Linked DNA regions of Homo sapiens: regions 1 and 3 are each linked to region 2. Evidence: fine-mapped expression QTL. A gene starts in region 2. Each other region holds a variant in brackets. All regions are shown on one strand. Distances are from middle to middle. Region 1 has its middle 8.3 kb from the start of ATP6V0E2. Region 2 holds the start of ZNF862 (zinc finger protein 862). Region 3 overlaps ZNF862 (zinc finger protein 862).

Region 1 (2,754 bases), 44 kb before region 2:
GGCCACCATCTCTGACCTCGGCACCATCCACCCCCAGCAATGCGCAGATTGGACGAGGGCTCGCTAGAGACTTCATCCTGCACGCAGGCGCTGCCCTCTGTTGGCCATACTCTTTGTGTGCAGCTTAACTTTTCTTGGTTACCTTTACTTTTTTTTCTCAGTGGCTTTGTCCTCTGTCTCAGCGTGGCCTCCAAGGCCACTTCCTGCTCTGCCACTTGGTATGGTTCAGGGCTGCCCTGCTCTCAGTCACGGCCCATTTTTAGAGCTTTTTTGCATCGTGTAGGTCCGTGAGCATCTGTGTCAGAGGCTGATATTTACTGATGTGCCTCCCACATTGGGGATGGTGTTGGGGGCACGGGTGGGGTTTGAAACTGATAACTCTAACAGAAGTTGGGTACATAGTGACTGTGTCCAAACCCCTGCACCAAGAGACTGGACCAACCCTAGCATGGCTTCTGGCAGCCCAAAGCGGCATCCCTGGGACCACCTGGCCACCCTTTGAGTTCCTGTCTGAAAAAGCTCAAGGCCGTCAAAATCATTTAGTGTTTGTTCCTACCAACACCTGACAACAGGCCTCTGACCACCCCCTCACTTTCTTAGAGCATTTACGTTAAAAACACTTAGAGTCGTACCTCCTTCCCTTGTCCCTTTGAGATGTACATGCATGTGTGTCCAGGAGTGTCTTTCTCAAGAGCCTGAGAGCCAGTCCTTTGAAATGGCATCATCAGGAAGGATGGGGCCTGTCTCCCAGGCTCTGGGGGAGGCCAGAACCTAACTTCCATCACTGCCAGCTGGCACACACAGCTGGCCCGGCCACAATAACACAGACAGCCCTTTGTAATTTTTCACTCCCATGATTCCTGAGCCCTGGAATGCCCTTTCCCGACTCCTACGTTCTCCCATTAAACTGTCCAGTCCCCCTGCACAGATCTGAATGGAGCTCAGCTTCTCCCCTGTCAGTGGTTAATGAATAAGGTCTGTTTTCGTAGCTTTAACTAAGGTCCAGCTTAGTTTATCTTTGACAGACCTACTTACCCTGCAGGTTCCCACCTCGGGCCTGGAGGGAAAGCCTCTGGGAGGAACACGGTCCTCACCAAAGGGTGGGAGACCAGATCGTGCCAGGGAGTGGAGTGGACATGAGCTCTGGGACCCTCTCCTCTCTCCCGGAATGGCTGCACAGGAAGGAAGGATGGAAGATGTGAGAAAGGCCACCCTGCCTGGGAAGGAGCTACCAGCCCTCAGCAGTCCAGAGGCTGCCCAGAGAGCAG[C/G]GAGCAGCTCTCCAGGACTCCACCTCCCAGGCCCAGAGGATGCCACCCAGGGGGCTCAGTGAGAATTCAGCCACAGCCACACACATCCCGGGAGAGTGTCTAAAGATGCCACCAATCCAATATCACAGAAGGCAAGAACCCAAAGAGCAGAAGCCGAGACAAGGAAGTAGCCATTTTGGATACATGCCCCCCACCCCAATCCTGGGCCAACGTGGATCTTCAGCATCCTGAACCTGAAGCCCCCATGGTGGGCCTGTGGCGGGCTGGGTGTGGCTTCAGAGGTGCAGCGGCAGGAACTGGCAGAGTGGTTCCCCCAGGCCCAGGGCTGACCCACAGCGACATGGGAAAATGGGCCCAGTAGGTCCCTCCTTGTTTAGCTCCCTTTGGTCTTTCCAGGTCCAGCTTCACTGGGTCCACGGGGTCCCCATCCTGAGGTCACTGTGTTTCTCACCCCCCACCTGCCCACTCGCTCCCAGCCCACTGCAGTCTGACTTTACTGCCCATCACCAAAGATGCCAGCTGACCTTGACTTCTTGGGGGTAGAGGACAATGGGGGTCTGTGTTACCTCAACCACTCTCTCCTGTTGAACCTCTCATCCTCCTGAGTGACACTCACCTGGTTGTCTTCCGGCTACCTGCAACCTCCCGGCATCCTCCACAGGCCACCTTCACCCACCCACCCCGTGAACTCACACTCCTTGGGGTTCTCTTCTGGGTTTTTCTCACTCTGAACCCCCTGAGCAACCTGCACCCCTCAGGGATCACCGGTTATTTATGCCGATGGCTCCAACTCTGCCTCCTGCAGCCTCATCTTCCTCCTGACCATCCGCCCCACCGCCCAGCCAGCCACTACCTACACTTCCACGGGGTGCCCTGGACACACACGACTCACCAGGAAACAAAGGAACACCTCAGCTCCCACAGCCACTCTCAGACCTGCCCCTGCTGCACTCCCCACCACGGGCAGCCTCGGTCTCTATGGGTCACAGCCAAGCAGCTCCCCCCTCGCTTCTCTGTCCTCACCACTTCCACCAGGGGCCCTAATAAAGATGTCAAACCAGCCTGCCGTCCACTGTGCAGCTTGTAGAGATAGATAATGCTAGAAATCCAGTTGGCCATGTCACGGCCCTGCTTTAAATCCCTTTCACGGCTCCCATGGCCCTTGGGATCCATCCAAGCTCCTCAGCTGGCTTTCCGCCCTCAGTGCTCTGGTGCCTCCATTGTGCGTCTTCCAGTCCCGCCCCACCCTCCTGTCCCTCCAGGGAAGTTCTTTCAGCTCTGCCCTGGGCTACAGGCTGGGCTGGAGGGCTGGGCTCCCTCTGCCCACTTCCCCACTGGACCTGCAGCGAGATGTGCTGGCAGATCCCAGCCCTAGGCTATTTCATGAAGGAGGCTTTGAAGCCTCTGGCGACCTGCTTCACTGCAGGAGTCCTGCACTGTGTCCTCTGGGGCCCAGACGAGTGGTGCTCAAAGCTGCACTTGAACA
Region 2 (2,738 bases):
CCAGAAAGATGTTAGTCCCAAGAGGCTGCCACTGTCTCCAAGCTAATGTGCCCACAACCACACTGGTCTTGGATGACACGGCCTGGAAGCGCTGGCAATCCCGTCAAATCCCTGAACTCCGCCCCCAAGCACTTTCTTTCCACCTTTTCTTCCAACTCAAAGCCTCTTGCCCAAAGCCAATTTATGACACAGGTTTCTAAGCAATGCCCAGATATTCCATGAAGTACATAACCTAGAAACAGAAGTGGCAAAAAGCATGCCAGATGCCCTCTCTTTTCAGCCCTTTCTTGGTAAGGAGGATCTAGGCAGGGTCAAGCCCTCAAGCGTCCCACCCTGCAGCTCCCACTGGCGTCCGATCCAGACTCCAAGCCTTAGCAGGGCCTCTTCAAAACGCCGAAGGTGGTGGGGAAAACAGGAAGCACCTTCGCATCGCTCCACTCGGGGGTCACCCAACCCAGCATCGACCCAGCGGACGCTCGGCAGCTCGGGGAGGATGCGCGGACACCGAACGGAAGCGTCCGCTCCTCTCCGCCACCCTCCCGGGGTCGGGCGCCGAAGTGCGGGAAGAGAGGGCGGGCCGGCGAGTCCTTCCCTGCAAGCCTGGCTCATCTGCGGGGCCTCCGCCCGAGCCGCCCCGCCTCGCCCGAGCCCGGCTCGGGGATCCTCGGGAGGGAGCGGGCGGCCCCCGGGCCTTCCAGTCCTACCTTCCCCGACTCTCTGGGCTCCATGGCCCCGCTTTCGGAGGCCCGTGCCGCCCCCTCCCCCCGCGGCCTGGCCTGAGGATGCAGCCGCCGCGACCGCCCCGGGGACCCAGGCTCCCGGAGGGGGAGGGCACCCAGGTAGGGAGGGAGCGCGGCCCAAGAACTTCGCTCTCTCACGTCGGGGGGCGGTAGCGCCGGTGGACCCAGGATAAGCGCGCTGAGCTGAGACTTGCGTCGCACCGAGCGAACAGCTTTACGGTCACTGCCCAGCCCCAGGCGGCGGGGCGTGACGGGAAGTGTAGTCCGCTCTAGGTGAGCGGCTCTCGAAGCTGCTATTGGCTCCCGGAACGCAGGTCCTGATTGGACGCCGGCGGCGCGCTTGCGACCCTCCCCGCCTCCCTCCGGCGACAGTTACTAGGCAACGGCGGCGTGGCGTCCTTTAGTCCTCTGCAGCAAGGGCAAAGCGCTCTGATTGGGCTACGCGAAGGCCAATGTCAGCCTTGAAGTTCTAGGTTTTCTTTTATTAAGGAGGGCAATACTTTTTGTTCTATTCACTCAAAAAGTATCATTGGTTGCCTACCATGGGTCAGGCCGTGTTCTAGGGTTTGGGAGAACACAGTTGAATGAGACAAAGGCCTTGCCTTCAAGGAACTCACGATCTATTAGGGAATCAGACCAGAAACAGATAATTACAAAACAGAGACAAGGGCTATGAAAGAGGTAAGCACAAAACATGAATTAAAGCCCGCGTTGTCACCTTAGAGTGAAGCGGTGGGGGATATGAGGTGCTTAGTCAAGGATTTCCTGCGGAAGTGATGCCTCAGCAGAATTAAAGCAAGAGGTAGGGTCTGCCAGGTAAAGGAGGTGCAATGGACTGACCGGTGTTCCCCTCCCAGGAGATGGGGCGTTTGGGAGGTTTAGATGAAGTCGTGAGGGTCAGGCCCTTATGGTGGGATTAGTGTCCTTATAAGAAGTTTTGTCCAAGTGCGGTGGCTCACACCTCTAATCCCAACTCTTTGGGAGGCTGAGACAGGAGGATCACTTGAGCCCAGTAGTTTGAGACCAGCCTGTGCAACACAGTGAGAGATCCCATCTCTATAAAAATAAAATAATTTTGTGAGGTGGAAGGATCACTTGAGCCTGGGTGGTCGAGGCTGCAGTAAGCCGGGATGGCGCTTCTGCACTCCAGCCTGGGTGACAGAGCAAGACCATGTCTCAAAAAAAAAAAAGACTTTTAGGGGGCCAGGGCAGGGATGTGCCTTCATGAAGGTGTTAGTGACCACATGCGTGCTGGGGGAACTAGCTAGGCCCTTTGCCCTTCTGCCCCTCTGCCTTCTGCCATGTGAGGACAGAGCAAAAAGGTGCCCTCCTGGAAGCAGAGACCAGGCTCTCACCAGACACAGACACTGCTGGTGCTTTGATCTTGGATTTCCCAGCCTCCAGAATCATAAGAAATAAGTATCCATAATTTATAAATTACCTAGTTCCAGGGATTTTGTTACAGAAGCACATAGAGATTAAGACAATGGTCAACTAATTTTTTTGTATTTTTAGTAGAGACAGGGTTTCACCATGTTACACAGGCTTCAAGTAAGCGTTTTCCATTATCCAGCTCTGCTCTTCTGGCCAAGGTTGAATAGACCTAAATTCCGTTCGAGGAGTGTAGGGGAGTCTGCATTACTGAAAAAAAGAATGAGACACAAGAAATGTGGAGGAGAAGGCAGAGAGTGAGGACTCTGTGGATTCCAAGTGGCCTGCCACTCACCACCTCGACTATATCACTACCTTGAAGAGCTATATTTCTGCCCATGAGTTATCCATGTCTTTATAACAGATTCTCTTTTAGGGGTTAAAAAACTGGAGGACAGCTAGGGTAAATCATTCTTTTGACACATTTTTCCATAAAAGGTTTTCCATCTTTCCAAGAAAAATGGAGCAGTATCTAGGGGGAAATGGGGAATCAAAGCAGTAGGACTAAGATATGAGTCACAAGATCTTGTTTCTGTGTTGATGGGAAGGAAACTGATGATTCAAAGG
Region 3 (2,734 bases), 26 kb before region 2:
CCTGGGTAAACCGGGCCGGGCATGCCACGGGTTAAACGCGGCTCGGCTCTCCGGGAAGCACCAGACCCCCTGCCAGAAGAGCCCAGCTCCACCATCTGGAGCTGCAGGAAGAGAACTTTCTTGGGTGCTCTGTGCAAAGGGCTTGTGATTGTTTCGCCCTAAAGGAAGCCCTGGGAAGAGGTAGAGTTCCGCACGAGACCACGGCCTCACTGCTTCTGCTGTGGGAGCCAGGGTAGGAAGTCCCAGAACAATGCCTCTGGGGGCTCTTGCAGCCAGGCCAGCTGTCCCTAGAGCAGGGGCAACCTCCCCCTCTAACAAGGTGGTCTTTCCCATTCCCACTTAGACTGTGGGCAGCCTCCCTGGAACATTCCCCAGGGATGTCCAACAGTCTCCCCTACCAGGACACTCCTCTTGCCACCAAAACTCAGGGGCTGAAACCTTTCATGATGGGGTTATTTTCTGCAGCACCTTAAAAATGAACTTGAGATATAGAACCTTCTGGCACATTTGTGTGCTGTGAGGCATGGCTGTGCTGAGTGGGGCCTCAGGAAACAGGTCATGCACCTCCTGATACCCCTGCTGCTCTGGGATGCCACTGCCCACTTCCTGGTGCTTAGAGACCATCGCCACCAGCAGAAGATCCTAGGGCAGCCTAGAATCTGCAGAGCCTGTCCCAGTGATCACAGAGGCGTCTCCAAGGCAGTCCCAAGGACTCCCTGTCCCTCAGGACATCCCGGGGGCCTCCTGGCTGGTGTGGGGATACAGGAGTCTCTCGGGAGGCTCCATGATGCAGTCCTTCAGAACCTCCGCTGCTTCCCTGGAGGGCAGGATGGGTGGCTTCTGGGTCCTGGGCTCCTCCACATAGAGGGCTCCCATCTCCTCCTTCCTGAGCCTGGCGCCTGTGAGGGAGGAAGGAGAATACAATTAGACTGACTGACAGTGACCGCCTTCCACATCCAGCTTCGCCCAGGGGCTGTTTGGTGAGGAAAGCTTGGCAGAACAGACTGAAGTCAGGACCACGACTGCTCTTTGCAGCCCTCATCTGTTGCTACTCTGTTCATTCTTTTATCCTGAGATAGGGGATCTCAACTGGGGGCGATTTTGTCCCCCAGGGGCCATTTGCCAATGTCTGGAGATGATTTTTGTGGTCACAAATGGGGTGTGTGCTACTGGTATCCAGTGGTTATCTAATAGGTAGAGGCCATGGATGCTGCTCAAGTTCCCACAGTGAACAGGAAGGGCCCCCAACAGAGATTACCCAGCCCCAGCATCAACAATGCCAAGGCTGAGAGCCCTGCCTGGAAGGAGGCAGCGGTGCGTAGTTTGGCAGTGTTTGGACCAATCTGTGCTGGTCCTGTTGTCCCTGTGGAAAGAGTAACTCGCATCAGGGCACACCTGACATCATTTTTTTCTCCTTAGCACCCACAGGGCTGGACACAGAGCAACTCACCCAGCCCTCTCTCGGCTTTCCCTTTCTCTTATCAGTGAGGGGTCTCTTTTCTTATCCCCACCTGCCCTACTGTGGCTTCAGGGCCACCTTGCTTCCTACAGAGCCTCTGTCAGCCATGAGATCCAGTCCCATTTCTGGTGACCACAGACTCAGAGGTGAAAACTGGGAGCAGCAACAGCCGGAAGGAGGCCAGCTAGAGACGCGAGGAGAGAGAGCACTGGGAGCAGCAACAGCCGGAAGGAGGCCAGCTAGAGACGCGAGGAGAGAGAGCACTGCTCCATCCTTGTCAAGTGGTCGC[G/A]AGTGGTCTGGAGAACCCCAACAATGGGCATATTTTCTTTGGTTTTCAGTGACTACTTGAAGAGAAAAATTTCCTGTCTGTGGCTTTCAGTAACTTGCCCTCCCTTCTAATACAGCTTCCCCCTCAAGCAAGTTCTTGACCCCAGCCCTCCGGTCCAGAGAGGCTGTTTCTGTTCTCCCCTGCCCCGTGAGATTTCTGCCTGAAAGCCCCACCATCTCCTCCGCATCTCACCTCCTCCACAGCCACATGGACCTCTTCCCTCTTGAAAATTCCTGCACGGTCCAGAGTCTATACAGCCCCACTTAGAATGTGATGGCGCTGCCTGGGGCTGGTCAGCCCTCTCCTTACTCCCAGCAGTGGTCTTGACCTTTAACTAGTACCATTTGCACCACCTGCCAGGCATTGTCCTGAGTGTTTTCCACACACAACTCATTCGGCAGATGAGAAACCAAGGCATCAAAGGACAGACTTGCCCAAGGCCACACAGCCAGTTGGGGGCAGAGCCAGCACAGCACTGTCACCAGGGCAGACAGGCTCTAGAAATGCACGCTCTCTGCACTAAGCCCTGCTGCCTAGAGCACATGTGCGTCATCTCCCTGGCAGGGGTGCAAGCTCCTGGAGGGTGGATGTCACGCATCGAGTACCCACTGGCCTAGCAAATGGGTGGGTGCATGACAGAAGCTCCACAGGCACCTGCAGTCCTGTCTTATTGGCCTCTGGCTCAGCATGAGGCTGCCTTGGGGGAGCTCTGCCACGTGTACTTACTTGCAGGGGAGCGGGCTGGCACCTGGGCACAGGTGTAGACATGGCTGAAACGCCGGCCTGAGGAGGTCAGGTACCAGTGCTGGATGGCGGGCTGGGGGTCGTACTCCGTGACGGCCACGCCGTTCACAGCTGTCATCATGAGCATGTTGAGCACCTCGTTGGAGAGCTTGGTCCTCTCATCGGTCCTGATTCGGTTCATGGCCTTGAACCCCCGCTCACAG

Evidence for each region. PIP is the estimated chance that this variant, and not a neighbour inherited with it, causes the effect.
Region 1: its variant is fine-mapped to the expression of ZNF862 in whole blood (TOPMed, PIP above 0.99).
Region 3: its variant is fine-mapped to the expression of ZNF862 in blood mononuclear cells (TOPMed, PIP 0.99).

Annotation. Positions count from the first base shown.
Region 1 is chr7:149,880,934-149,883,687 of GRCh38, reverse strand. It overlaps a transcript of ACTR3C not described here. Among named protein-coding and RNA genes, the nearest start is that of ATP6V0E2, 8.3 kb to the right of the region's middle. The variant C/G (reference allele first, on the strand shown) is at 1,269.
Region 2 is chr7:149,836,602-149,839,339 of GRCh38, reverse strand. ZNF862 (zinc finger protein 862) reads right to left here and starts at 965. Exons shown (of 8, transcript NM_001099220.3): 1 at 705-965. The coding sequence starts at 728. RefSeq lists a silencer at 430-889.
Region 3 is chr7:149,862,274-149,865,007 of GRCh38, reverse strand. ZNF862 (zinc finger protein 862) reads right to left here. Exons shown (of 8, transcript NM_001099220.3): 7 at 2,514-2,734; 8 at 1-899. The coding sequence ends at 724. Among named protein-coding and RNA genes, the nearest start is that of ATP6V0E2-AS1, 10 kb to the left of the region's middle. The variant G/A (reference allele first, on the strand shown) is at 1,749.